4 separate regions of the Homo sapiens genome follow, and regions 2, 3 and 4 are each linked to region 1. The links come from fine-mapping of genetic effects on gene expression. A gene starts in region 1. Each other region holds a variant in brackets. All regions are shown on one strand. Distances are from middle to middle.

What was found. PIP is the estimated chance that this variant, and not a neighbour inherited with it, causes the effect. A credible set is the group of variants that fine-mapping cannot tell apart.
Region 2: its variant is the best candidate, but not a certain one, in a credible set for the expression of STAMBP in tibial nerve (GTEx, PIP 0.80).
Region 3: its variant is the best candidate, but not a certain one, in a credible set for the expression of STAMBP in subcutaneous fat (GTEx, PIP 0.72).
Region 4: its variant is the best candidate, but not a certain one, in a credible set for the expression of STAMBP in monocytes after triphosphate RNA (Kim-Hellmuth 2017, PIP 0.76).

Annotation. Positions count from the first base shown.
Region 1 is chr2:73,826,534-73,830,801 of GRCh38, reverse strand. It overlaps STAMBP (STAM binding protein), which reads right to left and starts at 1,841. Exons shown (of 10, transcript NM_213622.4): 1 at 1,292-1,841. It overlaps LOC105374807 (a long non-coding RNA gene), which reads left to right and starts at 404. Exons shown (of 3, transcript XR_940246.3): 1 at 404-486; 2 at 1,898-2,045. RefSeq lists an enhancer at 1-344 and a silencer at 1,852-2,070.
Region 2 is chr2:73,856,003-73,860,002 of GRCh38, reverse strand. STAMBP (STAM binding protein) reads right to left here. Exons shown (of 10, transcript NM_213622.4): 8 at 637-749. It overlaps LOC112268419 (a long non-coding RNA gene), which reads left to right and starts at 3,026. Exons shown (of 3, transcript XR_007087106.1): 1 at 3,026-3,382. The variant T/C (reference allele first, on the strand shown) is at 1,902.
Region 3 is chr2:73,850,128-73,854,127 of GRCh38, reverse strand. STAMBP (STAM binding protein) reads right to left here. Exons shown (of 10, transcript NM_213622.4): 7 at 3,615-3,752. All of the region lies in intron 1 of LOC112268419 (a long non-coding RNA gene), which reads left to right. Among named protein-coding and RNA genes, the nearest start is that of STAMBP, 23 kb to the right of the region's middle. The variant G/A (reference allele first, on the strand shown) is at 2,340.
Region 4 is chr2:73,865,979-73,870,246 of GRCh38, reverse strand. STAMBP (STAM binding protein) reads right to left here. Exons shown (of 10, transcript NM_213622.4): 10 at 3,079-4,268. Among named protein-coding and RNA genes, the nearest start is that of ACTG2, 25 kb to the left of the region's middle. The variant G/TG (reference allele first, on the strand shown) is at 2,123.

The DNA of each region.
Region 1 (4,268 bases):
CATCCCAGCAGTTTTACAGTTTATCTCACAGACCTCTACCTTAAGAAGAAAATATAAGAGAAACATACCAAATGCTGTGGCTCCTATTAAATAAGGACTTTCCTACAAGAAGGCTGAGACCCTCAAGGAAGCCCAAATCACAACGATGAGAGTACTGGCAGACTAGAAAACATACAACCCCTGTACCATAATTAGGTGGTATAAGGAGTAGAACCACAGTGGACCAACCAAAGGTTCAGTTCAAGTTAATCAAATCCTTTGCCATTAGGGGGCTCCGCCCACAGCACTGTAAAAGTGGGAACAGCATCTTTTATTTTCTATTATTTCTCCTTCCAGATACCCACATACCTCCACCCCAGTACCTGGCAGAGTGCACTCAGTGAACTTTCTTGAGGATTGTTAACTAACTTCAAGGTTGACCATTTTTACTTAATCTGAGAGTAACTGACATTTTCTGTGGTATCCTTTTTCATATTTGAGCACAAGGTGAGTTAGGGGAACTGGTCTGGGAATTAATGCTCATAATTGTAACTCTGCTCACTAAACCACTATAGTCAATCTATAAAATCATTCATTCATCATTATCATGGCAAGAGACTTAAATCTTGAAAACAACCATTTACTCATCTTCATAGACTAAACACTGAATAACAAAAAGGCACGATGGTAACTTGCATTGCAAAAACCCCTGGTGTCCCAAAACTCCAGTAATTCTAGTCTTTCTAGATATAGTTGCTGTTAGAATCAGATTCCAAATTCCAACCAGATATCACCACTATCATCTCCAAAATAAAACTGGGCATTTGACACACATTGCATTACAGCAAACCCTAATCAGTATGCTCTAGAATACACAAACTACAGTAGAATAAATCTTGGAATTCAAGGCCCTGTGGCAACTGGCCCTCCCCAACAGAGATCTTTTGCTTCAGTCAGGATTCCAATCCGCCCAGGCATCCTCACATTTCAGTTTCATTTATCTATCCAGTTTTTCTTTTCTACTACAACTCTTCCCTCAGGGGTAGTCTTCTCTCAGCCAATTCCATCTTTAGGTCTCTTCAATATTCGGGTCACAATTCCTCCACAAACCTTCCCCTCTAAAACACCCTCACTAATAGCACAAAAGCCGTGAGGACTACTAGGGATGCAGAGATAGTCCATCTCTCACGAGGCCTCCTTAGGGACTCAGAAAGCCGCAAGCATATCTAAAACCTCCCCAAGTAATTAGTAAACCTAGTCCACGGCCCATGAAAGTTAACTGAAACAGAGGATGCTTGTTGCATCTCAGTACCTCTTGGGAGAGGTTCTTGTGGGTTAAGAAAGGAACCACCTCCCAAGGCCAGGAAGCGGCGCCGGTTACCACCTGGTTGAGCAATTCCAAAAAGGGGATGCAGCATCTGCAAATGAGGGGGAAAGGCGGCGTAAAGGACCGAGGGGGAAATACGAGGAGGAGAAAGGAAGTAGCAGGAATGAGCGGAGGGGGCGTATACAGTAGGGAGGGCTCTATCGACAACTGCTTGAGGAACCCTTCTTGAAGGCACTCAAGACGAACTTGCCAACCCCAGGCACAATCATCCAGGGTTTTCGGGATCTTTCAAATGCAGTAGGCGGGGAACCGCTGGGCCTGGCTGGTCAGGCGCCAGCCCGCGGAGACAGAAGCCGTCGGGTGCCTCGAGCGAGGCAGGCCGGGCAGGGGACTCGGGGAGAGTAGGCTGCAGGCCCCACACTCACGGCGGCCGATCCCCTTCAAAGTCCAACCACGCTCGGAGGCCCTGCCCCACCACGTTCCCGGGACCCTTCCCCACCTTTCCCCGCGGATGACACCCGGAGGTTCCGGAAACGTCACATCCGGCGCCCGCTCCGCCCACTCCCGTTCGTCTGTCTATTACATTCCCAGTGATTTAGGACTTGGAACGGAGAGCTAGTAGGTGGGGCTAGAATCGGCACCTGCGGAAAATCCGACCAATGAGGAGCGAACGACACAGCGGCCATCTTGGTAAAGGAAAAGGAACAAGGAAGAAAGTGGAACCAATTAGCAAGCTAAGGTTTGCTTTTAAAATTATTTTGATTTGGGGTAGTCCCTCATCACACTCACAATACTCCTGCATTTAAGGAGGGATTGCTGATCCCAGCACAACTGCAGACTTAGCTAAACTAACCAGGATTTATAAATTGGGGGACAGAAAGTCTTTCGAATGTATTTTTTAGCTTGTATTACATTCTACACAAAAATTGGTAGTCTTAGATATTAGGCAATATCTAAGACTAATTTTATTGCTTAGAAAAGAACATAAGTCTAACTTTTTTTTTTTTTAAGACAGGGTCTTGCGGTGTCACCCAGGCTGTCACAGGAGTGCAGTGGTGTGATCATAGCTCACTGTGGTCTCCAACTTCAGGGCTCAAGCGATCTTCTTGCCTCTGCCTCCCAAAGTACTGGGATTACTGGCGTGTGCCACCGCACCCAGATGAGACTAACGTTTTAATGTCAAAAAACCTATAAAATATTTGGAAAAAAAGCGTTTAATCTCTAAGAGCCGCTATGCAAAAGCAGTGGAGACACAAAAATCTGTATGACACTGTTCCTGCCCTGAGACCGGGACAAGGTGGTTTTATGCATCAAATACAGAATGGCACGTTCTGCATGTAGATGTGTGTCTGTACGAATCCATATACATCCTCTTTACAAAAAGGTCCTACAAGCTTGCTAATCATTCTGTCTCAGAAGACTTTGTGAAACATTAGGCTTTGGTTTAAAAGTCTAAGTCTCTGGGGGACACTTTCCCAAAATTTGGGAGCCTCCCTGTGAGTTTGTTAGTGTGATGGCATGACCTATTCTTCAAGGTCTAGCTTAAATCCCTAATTCAGGTGTTGCCTCCTCCACCTAGCCAGCCTCCAGATCTCTCATTTCTCCCAACCTCCGTTGTGTATATTTCTGTTGGAGTTACCTGAAGTGATTTTGTGTAGTCATCAACTTTTCAGACTTAGGGTTGAAAGTACTTGCTTGCATCATATCACCTCCCCTTCTGCCCCCAGCAAGCATTAATGTGCATGGGTCTACTATCAACTCTCATGGATCTACTGCAGATAAATCTGGGAAGATAATTGTATAGGGCACTCTACTGTGTCTTCAAAACTCTCTCTACTGACTCTCTTCAGAATGTAAACATGATGGGTTGGGCCTAAAGAAATTGATGCACTGGAGATGCTGGTCATTGGGTGGGCATTATAGTGCAGATGGGGTCCTGGCAGGAGGCAACACAGGTCAAAATCTGATCCATTCAACCTCTCACTCAGTAAATGTTTACTGAGTGTCTACTATGTGCCAGGTTCTGTTCTAGGTGTTAGGGATACATCAGCAAACAAACCCAGCAGGTGGATACTCTAATGGTGGAAGCACAGGTAGAAGTACAGCTGGTGGGGTAGGGAGGGGCATCTGCTCCCATTCAGCACAATCTCTAAAGTAGTTCTTTTTTTTATAATGTTTAGCTTAACAAGTAAAGAAAATTTACAAACATCCTAGATTTTAAGATTATGATGAGAAGACTTTAAGAAGCTATAACTGAGACACACATATAAGGGGTGTGCATAGTCGTAAACATAGCTAGCGCCACATAGAGGCTGTTCCTGATATTAGAAAGTTAATATGCCCAGTTGCTAGCAGTTCTTAAGGTAATAGCTAAGTGAATATAGGAAGCAGGATCTAGTCTTTTTAGGGAGAGAATTTGTAAATGTTGACCAGAGTTTTTGATATCTGGGGCAAAGTTCAATACTCAGCTTTCTAGGGACCTGAAATAAGAAAATCTTGGCCAAGGTAAAAATTTTACATTCCTCATTTCTTGTTTAACTGGAAAAGTTTAAAAACTAAACAATTTTGTATACACAATCAGGAAATCAAAGCTATAAAAGATTCTTGGCATAACTGATGAGAATATCCTACCTACCCCTGCCCTAAAGATTGGAGGCTAAGCGTGGAAGGTATTCCTTCAGCAAATAGGCTTCAGCAGTTCACCTGGCAGACTAGACCAGGTTAGGAATTGAGATGCTCTTTCCTTCCGGTGCTCACTCCCAGCCATGAACACTTTTCCTGAATATAGCAGCCTCCATCTGGCCGCTTGCATATGCCAACGTCAGGTCTCCTGCACTCCTGCATGCTCATTCCTACTTGCTCATTTTTGGGCAGCAGCAAAAGATGCCTAGAAGGTGAAGTTCTTAATCTGAAATGTAACATCGGGGTTTAGAAAACACAGGCCTGGACCAGGTGCGCTGGC
Region 2 (4,000 bases), 29 kb before region 1:
TCCCAAACATATGCACGCACACACACACCAGCATGCACACTCACACAGCAGGGCAGAGGTCATTGTGAGACAGCTTCTGTAGGATGCTGCCTCACAGGTCTCTTCTCTGGTGAATGAATCACAGTTAGAGAATGACTCATTACTGCCATCACACTAGTTTTGCTGGAGAATTCATAGTAAATAATCAAAGTGGGAGTAGAGACAGGATTTGGTATGAAAAAGAAGTGCATTCTGAGATAATGTGTTTGATTTTGAAACTTTCTTATTTTTTATTTTTATTTTTTTATTATATTTTTTTATTTTTTATTTTTTATTTTTTTATATTTTATGATTTTGAAACTTTCTAATCCAACATAAAACTCTTGACATTCCTATCGCTTCAAGTCAAACACTTCAAATTTCTTGTAGACTTTTCTTAGAAAAGCAACTAAGTTGTTACTTGGATATCTTTTTGAACAAGCATGATAGATAAATCATGATATGGGGCTTAAAAGGAAGCCCTTTAGAATAACCAACTTACATTATAATCTATGTATTTTACAAAGGACAAGTCCACAAGAATAGAGACCTTTTCCCCTGAGGCTTTCTTCCCTACTACCCCCTTGAAACACCCAGAACCATGCCCTCTATACTCACTCCTGGAACTTGGGGGAGCAAACAATGGCTACTGACTCTGGCAACATCATCTGGTAAGAGCAGTGAGTGTGTAGGTCGACACTGGAGAGAAACGCGGTCTGTGTGGGGTGAGTCTGAGGAGAGAAAAAGAGTCAGAGGACTCTTAGCGAGGATATATGGTAATCCCTCCTTATTTGCGATTCCCTTTCTGAGGTTTAAAGCTATCCATATCAACTGCAATCTGAAAATATTACATACGATAACATACTTTGAGAAAGAGAGATCATCTTCACATAACTTTTATTACACTGTATTTTTATAACTGTTCTGTTTTATTATAGTTGTTGTTAATCTCTTCCTGTGCCTAATTTATAAATTAAACTTTATCGCAAGTATGCATGTATAGGAAAAAAACATAGCATATATAGGGTTTGGTACTATCTGTGATTTCAGGCATCCATTGGGGGGTCTGGGCTCATATCCCCTGAGGATAAGGGGGGGACTACTCTGACATACAACCAAGTCTGGTCTCTGAAGGAAGTAAAGCCAAACAGTTCTCAACAGCTGGTCACAATCTCCTTTGTAAGTGAGAAGCCATCTGCAACCATGAGAGGTCCACCTGAGGTTCCTAATAAGTAAGGAAGCTCCTTTCCAGCACTGTAAACAAATATTGCTTAATACCAGTATGTGAAGAGACTCATAATTTCTTTCCTTTTTTAAGTTCAAGAGACTTACTATACAACATGGTGACTACTGTTCATCACAATGTATTATACACTTGAAAACTGCTTAAGAGAGTAGATTTCAAGTGTTCTCACCACAAAAAAGTATGTGACATAATGCATATGCTAATTAGCTTGATTTTCCCATTCCACAATATATGCATACATATTTCAAAACATATAGACTATTGTTATTTGTCAATTAAAAAAAGAAAAAACAAAAACAGGCTGGGCATGGAGGCTTATGTCCGTAACCCCCAGCACTTTGGGAGGCTGAGGAGGGCAGATCATTTGAGGTCAGGAGTTTGAGACCAGCCTGGCCAACATGGTGAAACCACATCTCTCTTAAAAATACAAAAGTTGGCTGGGCGTGGTGGCGGGCACCTGTAATCTCAGCTATTCGGGAGGCTGAGGCAGGCAGATCATGAGGTCAGGAGATCAAGACCATCCTGGCTAACATGGTGAAACCCTGTCTCTACTAAAAAAAAAAAAAAAAAAAAAAAAAATACAAAACAATTAGCCAGGCGTGGTGGCACGCGCCTGTAGTCCCAGCTACTTAGGAGG[T/C]TGAGGCAGGAGAAGAGCATGAACCCGGGAGGTGGAGCTTGCAGTGAGCCGAGATCGCGCCACTGCACTCCAGCCTGGGTGACAGAGCGAGACTCCATCTCAAAAAAAAAGAAAAAGAAATAAGGAGTATAAACAATTATTGGAAACTGGAAGAGCTGTCTGTGGTGAAGGATACAATGAGAGAGGGGAAGGGGATGAAAATAACTAAATGAAATAACTTAGATTGCATTGTCCCCAGCAGAATGACAACTAAACAGATGAGGATTTGTCTGAAGAGCAATCGTGGGGAGATGCCACAAGTGGGGTGGGGGAGATTCCACTTCAGTTCCTGGGTAGGTGGATGTATGCCCTCACTTACATTGTGCAGAACCATAATTCTGAGATTCTGTAGAGTGTCTGATGAATGATAAGGTGATCTTTTTCTAATGGAAAGTAACAGCATTAAGCCCAGGCAAGCGCATGCCGTCCTAGCTCATGGTTATAGATGACATACCAAATAACCCACCCACCACATTTCATCTAATTCACTCAGACAACCTTCTCAGGGAGAGAGCTCCCAGAGGTCACCAAGGCTGTACTGGACAAAAGTAAACTGTGGACGAAGAGGCTTGGAACTTTCTGGCTTCCCTTGTTTGAAGGCAGTGGAAGATGTTAGGCAGCTTGAGCACTCAGGGGGAAGGGGGAACTGGAGTAGGCAGACAAAAAGGGAGGTAAACACAAAGGGGGAACTTTCTTCTCTGTACTACTCAAAACGGGGACTCTGATCCCACTGGTTCAGAAGATCTAGGGTACCTGATGGGTTCTGGAATTCCTGGTTGGATGAAGGACTGTAGGCGCAGAGCCTTGATGCGAGAAGGCATCAAGACATCGGGCCATTAAACAGGTAGGGTATGGAGAGGACCCAGGGACAGAACTCAAACCTTCCATCTGGGGCATCATCGGGGAAAGATACTGTTCCACAGTGTTAAAACTCAAAGACCACTGCAAAGTGGGAGAAAAACAGAATTCTGAGGCTGGAATAGACAAGGCAGAAGAATTCAATGCTGTGCCACATTCCAGTTAAACAAATTCTGACCTCACAAAAGGAAATCAAGATCTAGGTTCCAAGTGTGAAGAAAAGGCTTCCCTGGGGTTGGTGTGTGCTAGCCAGGAGATCAGTATGGTGGGTCTTGTGGGGTGTGAGAACTGGCAAGGGGAACCCCATCTCAGATGACAGCACACAGAAACTGGCTTGGAGACCTCCTTCAGGCACATACCTGCTGCACAAAGATCACCAGACAGTAGGAGTGGAGACAGGAAAAGACATTTGCATCTCAGGGTTGGAGACAGAAGAGGGGGTTGTTTGTTGATATTTCCTGCTCTAGCTCTCCTGTTCTTGAACCAAATTGGAAGAACTCAAGGACTATGATGTTGGATTCACCCAGGGATCCATGGAATCAAAGGTGTTAATGGGGTTGTCATGATGGGCATCCATGGACAAGGTAGGTGGGTGTCCTCAACAATTGTGAATGGCACTCAGTGGCCCTTGGAACTTTTGCTAGGGAATTTCTTCTATCTCCTCTAAGAAGTGTTTCTCTCTGGATGATTCAGGCTTTGGTTTTTCAAGAGACTCATAATTTCTAACTGACCATCAAGACTTATTTGGTTCCTTACAAGGTCTCTTCATACCACTGAGTCACCCATTCTGGAACAGATGGTACATACCCAATATTTCAACATGGTGGAAGTCAAGGACTTAGTAAACCACAATTAGATGAATGATTCTTCTCTCCCACAGAGGTGTTAAAAGGTCAAACATGAATCAGGTTCTATAGGCAAAGGCTGTCCTGTAGCTAAAGCATCATCCAAGGAAGATATGGGAGGTAGGGGAATACTTGAATTTCAGTTGATAGTTAAACCATACAAAGGAGACCATTCTGTTTGGAAGGAGAACACGATGCTAAAATTTGAGGTTAATCAGTTAAAATATCACCTAAATGTGCATCCCGATTATTTGTTTCCATTGTTTGTTTTATTAAGCACATATTTTATATACAAAACAGACAACTATATAATGACTTATGTTCATCTTAGAGGAGGTGTGATCTTAGGTAACAAAA
Region 3 (4,000 bases), 23 kb before region 1:
CCTCTATGTACTTCTCATTCGATCCTTCCTTATCACCACATTACCTTGTCTCTCCTGCCCTTTTACATCTCCATTGTTGGCTCATTGGGCATAAGAACATGTTCAGAAAACTACACACAAGAATGTGGATAAACCTTCAAAATGTTGAGCAAAAGAAGCAAGACACAAATATACATATGGTATAACTCCATTTACAAAAAGGTAAAAGCCAGGCAAAAGTAAACTATAGTGTTTAGAGATACACATTGAAGTGGTGAAATTATAAACGAAGCAAGGAAGGGAGGACTTCCCTCCCTTAGGGCATGCATGCTCCTGACAGTGTTCTGTTTCCTGACCTAGGTAGTGTATGTACATAGATATTTGCTTAATGATTTGTTAAAGTGTACATTTAGTTTCTTTTTTTCCCAAGACCAAGTCTCGCTCTGTTGCCCAGGCTGGAGTGCAGTGGCGTAATCTTGGCTCACCACAACCTCCGCCTCTGGGGTTCAAGCAATTCTCCTGCCTCAGCCTCTCGAGTAGCTGGGACTACAGGCATGCGCCACCATGTCCAGCTAATTTTTGTGTTTTTAGTAGAGACAGGGTTTCACTATGTTGGCCAGGCTGGTCTCGCACTCCTGACCTCGTGATCTGCCCGCCTTGGTCTCCCAAACTGCTGGGATTACAGGCTTGAGCCACCGCACCCGGCCTAAAGTATATATTTAGTTTCTGTGTGCTTTCTTATTACATGTGTTATATTTCATCAAAACAAAACATGTTCAAGCCTTTCACTTTGAACAATCAACCAAACATTCTCTCAACCCAACTTCTCCTTAAACCACCATTCCATGTTTCTCCTTTCCTCTAGAGCTAAGTTGCTCAAAATGGTAGTGTATACTTCATTGTCTCCACAAACTTAATCCCTATGAGTTCTTAAACTCTTACAGTCTACTCCCATTAATGCCTAAAACACACTAAATCGAGATCCTCAATAATTTCATCAAATCCAGGCCGATCCGAGTCTTCACCATTCTGGAGCTCTCCATAGGATGTGACATGGTTAACATCTGGAAATTTTTTCTTAAAGCCTTCCTTGGCCGGGTGCGGTGGCTCATGCCTATAATCACGAGGATCACAAGGTCAGGATTTCGAGACCAGCCTGGCCAACATAGTGAAACCCAGTCTCTACTAAAAATACACACACACACACACACACACACACACACACACACACCTGGCCAACATAGTGAAACCCAGTCTACTAAAAATACACACACACACACACACACACACACACACACACACAATTAGCCAGGCATAGTGGCGGGTACCTGTAATCACAGCTACTCAGGACACTGAGGCAGGAGAATCACTTGAACCTGGGAGGCGGAGGTTGCAGAGCCAAGATTGCGCCACTGCACCCCAACCTGGGCGACAGTGTGAGACTCCGTCTCAAAAACAAAACAAAACAAAAGAGCCTTCCTCCTCCTATGGCTTCTGTGCCTTACCACTACCCTCACCTTTTTCATACATCTCTTTGCTCCATTGCTAACTACATTCTATGTTACATTAGGTAGCCTGTCCCCCAAGTTGCCAGTGAACCTTTTCTTGCTCTAGACTCTTCTCCTACTTCCAGGGCTTCCAAGATCAGCACTAAATAGTGGATTCCCAGAGCCCTCTCTCCTGCTTTGACTTTGCTCCCAAGTTCTAGCCCTACATTGCCAACTGGCTGATAACTACCTCCAGTGATTTAATATCTCATCAATACCTGAAATTTAACATGCTCAGAACTGAACCCCACTTTCAAACCAAATCCTTCTCCTGGATCCCCTACTTTTGCTTATGAGATGATCACTGCAAGGCCCCAAATCTCTGAGTCACCATTGACTCTGAGTCATCATCCTCTATTACTCATTTCCCAAATCCTCTGAAATCCTACATTCATCTCCTCCTTCCCAAACACACTAGCATCACCCTAGCTCTTATCATTATTAGGCTTTATCAGCACACTAACCTCTTAAATCATCTCCTTGCCACAACCTACCTTAAAACTGTATTTATGTTAAATTTTCTAAAGTATGGCTTTAATCATATCATTGCTCTACTCAAAAACCTTTAGGAATTTTCCACTTACTAAAAAGTGGAACAATTCTGCCTGTCCACCCCAGACCCTCCAGAACTCGGCTCCAATGTACTACATTAAAACATATCTAGCCGGGCGTGGTGGCTCATGCCTGTAATCCCAGCACTTTGGGAGGCTGAGGCGGGTGGATCACCTGAGATCAGTAGTTCGAGACCAGTCTGGCCAACATGGTGAAATCCCATCTCTACCAAAAATACAAAAATTAGCTGGGCATGGTGGC[G/A]GGCGCTTGTAGTCCCAGCTACTTGGGAGGCTGAGGTAGGAGAATCGCTTGAATCCGGGAGGTGGAGGTTGCAGTGAGCCAAGATCTTGCCATTGCACTCCAGTCTGGGTGAAAAGAGTGAAACTCTGTCTCAAAAAAAAAAAAAAAAAAATCTACCACTGTTTCCTGATATGAACCATAAATCTCAGTGAACTGGTCCCCCCAGTGCTCCAGGGACAGAGTCCGCCTCTTCTCCACCTGTCTGCTCCTTAAGGAACTTGCCCTTGGCCCAGCTTGCCAACATTCTACTAAACCCTATCAGGCATGGTCCCTCCTTCCTCTGAATTCCACAGTGCCTCGCTGGCACCTCTTGTGGCCTTTAGCACGTTCTGCCCCAGGTGAAGTTATTAATTGTCTATTTATTTAATCTCCTTCATGAGGCTAAAATCATACCTTACTCAAATTTGTATGCCCTGGCAGATAAGGAACAAGTTTTCTCTCCCCCATCTACTACAATGGGGGTGGGATGGGGATACACAATAATAGGCAAATCATCAACATGAATGTAATTGAATAGAAGAAAGGACAGAAGGCACATGGGACTGCCTCACAGGTCAGTCTTTCCCAAATTCTGGCATACAAGTATGTGTAATCCAAGAATAAGCCAATTTATTTGTAACTCTGTCATACAGCATAAAATGCAGCTTGGGCTATGAGAGTGAGGGGTTGAAAAGGAATAGAAAGAAAAATTTAAAAATAATCTTTAGGGAAGGCATTATATTTTACCTGAACATTACCAGAAGGCTGCACAAGATATGCAGACACTTGAAAATCATGTGTATTTATAGCCCTTCTTGTTTATATAAAGGTGCTTTAAGAAAGACCAAATGCAAGCATCTGAATTAACCTCCTTGGCTCATTTAAAATATTTTGAATTATATACCTTTAAGGAACATCATCTGTACACAGTAGGCATAGTCTCTAAGGTCAATGTCCACTTATATTCTAGGCCAGCATCCCATCACCAGTTACACTCAGAGGGAAACTGGAACTTTAGGGAAAACAGTTTATTTTTACTAAAAAATAAATAAAAAGTTAAAAAAATTTAAAAGCCCTAAGTGTTCCCAGAAAACAATACCAAAGTGCAATAGTCAAGTATGCTAAGGACTGCATCCAAAAGAGAGAAAAACAATAAATAATCTGGATATAATTGACTTTGTTCAAAGAAACACTCATGTATTTATACCACCATGGGAGAGGCAGAGACTAACTCTCGGACAGCTCAGAATTGCTTACATGAATCCAGCCCAGTGTGATGAGGCCCTGCTGATCCTGTATGAGGAAAAGTTCTTCTTCGTTCTCTGTGTTGCAGTAATCAGACCCAGCACTTTGCTTGGGGATGAGAACATGGGTAATGGTAAATTCATTCCTCATCTGCCAAAGGAGAAAACAGCTGGTCACAATTCCCTGGTGCTCATGCAACCCTGCTCCACTCCATCCCGACAGTGGAAAGGTAAGCATCTATACAAGTGAAAGCCCTTCCCACACAGCAGGAGTCCTGCCACTCAGTGGTTCACAACCTTGGCTGCTGATGCACATTGCCTGGGGTACTCTGTACAGCGACAGATGCAGAGACCAACCCCAGAACTCTGCAGCCTGGGCAAACACCACAGCCCTGAGGG
Region 4 (4,268 bases), 39 kb before region 1:
CTGCTGCTACGCCCAAGAGCTTTCCCAAGCCCCTTTCACTGATGCTGTCCAAGAATAGGGTCTGGCTGGATTCCCACATTGAAGGGGCAATGAAGTTTCGGTTTCTGAAAATAGAAGGTATTGTCCTTTTTGTCCAATTATAAAAGCAATACATGTTCTTTGTAGTACATTTGAAGAAATTCGAAAAAGGATATGGGGGAAAAATGAACAGTCATCCCATAATTCTATCACCTACAGATAACTAATATTAATATTTTTAGGTACTTCTTATTCATAGTTTTTCTGAATACATGTATTAATGTATATTTTAGGAAGGCAGCATTACAGTGTGGTTGAGTGTGGGTTTGAAAGTCTGACACTATTCATTTGGAGTTCTGTGGCCTTGGTCAACTTAAACTCTTCTAAGTCTTACTTCCTTCAACAATAAAGTTTGCTGATTCTTAATCTAGTCCTCGGTCAGTATCAAATTACTTTAACTTATAGGTTTATTTTTTATTTTTATTTTTTAAAGTTTTATTATTATTATACTTTAAGTTTTAGGGTACATGTGCACAATGTGCAGGTTTGTTCCATATGTATACATGTGCCATGTTGGTGTGCTGCACCCATTAACTCGTCATTTAGCATAGGTTTATAATAAGCATTATCTGGTAATAAATTTCCCCCAAAATTCTTTTTTTCTTTCAATTTTTAAATGTTATTTCACATATCTCAGATTAATTTTAGAATAATCTTTCAAGTTAAAAAATGATACTTTTTAGCAGACTTGCATTTAAATTTTTGGATTAAAGAAGACGTAGCATCTTTAAAATTAAAACATTGTCTTTCTCTCATAGAATACCGATAGTGTGCCTGTCTTTCCATTTATTTTCTTCATGTTCCTCTGAAAAGCTTACTGGTTTTCTTCATATGAGGCTTGCACATTTCCTGTTAACTTTGTTCCAAAGTATTTTATATTTTTAGTTGCTATGTGCTGAATTAGATTTTTTTTCCCCCAATCACAAATGGCTATTACCTGTACTGAAAAGCTATTTTCAAAGTTTTAAAATGTATCTTTTAGTGAACATCGTTGTGCCTTTCTCTTAATAGGTCTGACCATTTTTCAGAATTTATTATCTTCAGATTTCTAGGTAGATACTTAGCTTGTAGCCCAAACCTGTCTGCTTTCCAGTAGTATACTCTTTATCCTGCTTCACTGCATTGGTTAGATTATCCTTTCAGGACACTGTTCAATAATAGTAGTTAGAATGGATCTATCTTGTCCCTGACAGCAGTGTTTGCTTATTAAGTATGACGCTGGGTGTTATATATTAGAAGATTTATTTTATCATGTTAACGAAGCTTCTTGCTTTCTTTTTTTTTCTTTTTTTGAGTCAAGGCCTCTCTCACCCTCGTCCAGGCTGGAGTGCAGTGGCGCTATCACAGCTCACTATAGCCTTGACCTCCCTGGGCTCAGGTGATCCTCCCACCTCAGCTTACTGGGTAGCTAGGACCACAGGCATGCACCAATGCCTGGCTAGTTTTTTGTAGAGACAGGGTTTCACTATGTTGCCCAGGCTGGTCTCGAATCCCTGGGCTTAAGTGATCCGCCCACCTCAGCCTCCCAAAGCGCTGGGATCACAGATGTATGCCACTGTGCCTGGCCCTTTCTTTCCTTACTAGGGGAGTTTAAAAAATAAAAAATAAATGTTGATTTTCATCTTAAAAAAATTTTTTTTTATGAGAGACTCTTGTTTCTGCTTGTTTCCTTTGACCTACTCCTGTGATATATTATATCAGTGGATTTCTTTTAATGAGGTCACCATTACATTCTAGGGACAAAAATCACCAAACGCCTCAGGGCTCTCAGAGTCAGGTAGACCTGGGCTGCCATCCGACTCATCACTTTCTAGCAGTGGAATCATGGGCAAGTCCTACATGAGGATGCATAATACATGCTGGCAGTTAGGATACTTTATTCCTTTACTAGATTGATGATTTTTTTAGTGTTCTATTTAGAATTTTTGCATCTATATTATTGATTTTGATGTGAAGTGTGTGTGTGTGTACACAATTTATGAGATTGTGCTCATAAAAATGACTTATGTCATTTACTTAATTTCTGGGTTTTTTTTTTTTTTTT[G/TG]AGACAGAGTTTTGCTCTTGTTGCCCAGGCTGGAGCGCAATGGCGTGATCTCGGCTCACCACAACCTCCGCCTCCTGAGCTCAAACGATTCTCCTGCCTCAGCCTCCCAAGTAGCTGGGATTACAGGCGTGTGCCACCACAGCCGGCTAATTTTGTATTTTTAGTAAAGATGGGGTTTCTCCATGTTTGTCACGCTGGTCTTGAACTCCTGACCTCAGGTGATCCACCCGCCTCGGCCTCCTAAAGTGCTGGGATTACAGGCGTAAGCCACCGCACCTGGCCAATTTCTGCTTTAGTACTTATTTCTTTCCCCCTGGTTTCCTAGTATATTTTATTATTCTTTTTCTAATTTGAGTCCGATGCTTAATTCATATCTTTTGATTCTTTCTTCTTAAATAATGAAAGCATTTAGAGTTCTAAATTTCCTTCTCTGTATAATTTGTAGAAATTACAGAAATTTTAATTTGTGATATTGTATTATCGTTCATCTCTAAATAAAAGATGAATGATTATATATGTAGTTTTTCTCATTTGCCTTTCTTCTAGAGGTAACCTTCTATTATTGTTATTTATTTATTTTTTTAGACGGAGTTTCGCTCGTTGCCCAGGCTGGAGTGCAATGGCGTGATCTTGGCTCACCACAACCTCCACTTCCCAGGTTCAAGCGATTCTCATGCCTTAGCCTCCCAAGTAGCTGGGATTACAGGCATGTGCCACCACATCTGGCTAATTTTGTATTTTTAGTAGAGACAGGGTTTCTCCATGTTGATCAGGCTGGTCTCAAACTCCTGACCTCAGGTGATCCACCCGCCTTGGCCTCCTGCTGGGATGACAGGCATGAGCCACCATGCCCGGCTGATTGTTAATTTTTAATTTTCACAATCTTTAAACATCAATATTTAAAATGTGCTCACATTTGTTGCACTTCTCCCAAAAAAGCAAAGCCTTACCATTTATTAATTGGATGATTTTGGACAAGTCTGTGCATTTATTCATATCTTATTCCATGTCAGGGGACTCAGTACAAAGGTGAAAAAGACAAAGTTGCTGTTCTCAAGGAGTATACTTTAGACACATAAGCTAGCAATAAACAAACAGGATGATTTTAGCTCATGACAGGGCTACACAGACAGTAACAGTGATGAGATAGAGTGATGGGGAAGAGGTGCTTAAAATGGGGTTGTCAGGAAAGGCCTCTGCTAACCACCAGATCTCATGGGCTCATCTTGAGATTTAACCCAGCAAACCTCTTCTGAGCCAGTTGGCACCACTGATCTCCCTCCCCTCCTTTAAACTGTTGCCTTCCTTGATTTCTGTGACAAGATACTGGTGTCACTATCTCCTTGTCTCCTCCTACTTCCAGCTCCCTCTTTCAGCCTTCTATGCAGGCACATCTTCTTTTGACCACCCATTAAATTCGCTGTTGGCCAGGACAACCATCCCTCCTGGCGGCTGGAAAGAAAGCTCAAGTGCAGCACAGGCCCAGCATATGATGCTGAGTCAAATTCAGATGGCTTCCTACAAGGTGACATAGAGCTTCTCCAGGCTAGGACACAGGTCCACCTGGCTACCTAACACATTATTCAACACCAAGGAACAACTGATCAATAAGGTTAAGTGCCTATACTGACTGCAAGGCATGTTACACAGTGCATAAAGCAAACATGATTCTTACCCTAATGAAATTTATACGATAGTTCAGAAACATGACTTACATAAAAGACAATATGAAAACGCTGCAAAACAACAAAAAACACACACAACAAATTGTGGGAAACAGACTATAGTTGCCACTGGAGTTCAAGGAAGGAAGCCCTCAGAGTGAACCTACCAGTGAGGGAAGGCACTAAAGGAACTGGAAGGACAGAGCCCATGGTTATGTAGCGTCACAGTGCTGGATTCTGGATCTAACAGGCTGATTGAATGATGCCGGACACACCTGTAAGTTAAGGCCCAGCTTCTAATCTCAAACAGGCTAAGGTGAACTAAAAATTGAACCCTGGATTAAGGGGTGAAGACTTCAGTGAAGAGGGCCAATGTTCTGCCCTTCCTTCATCTCAAGAAGTAGTTGGAACAACAAAAGTGGGAGGTTCAAACAAGAGTGGGCTGGAGCCAAGGGAAAATAGAGATGATGTAATTTCTTTAG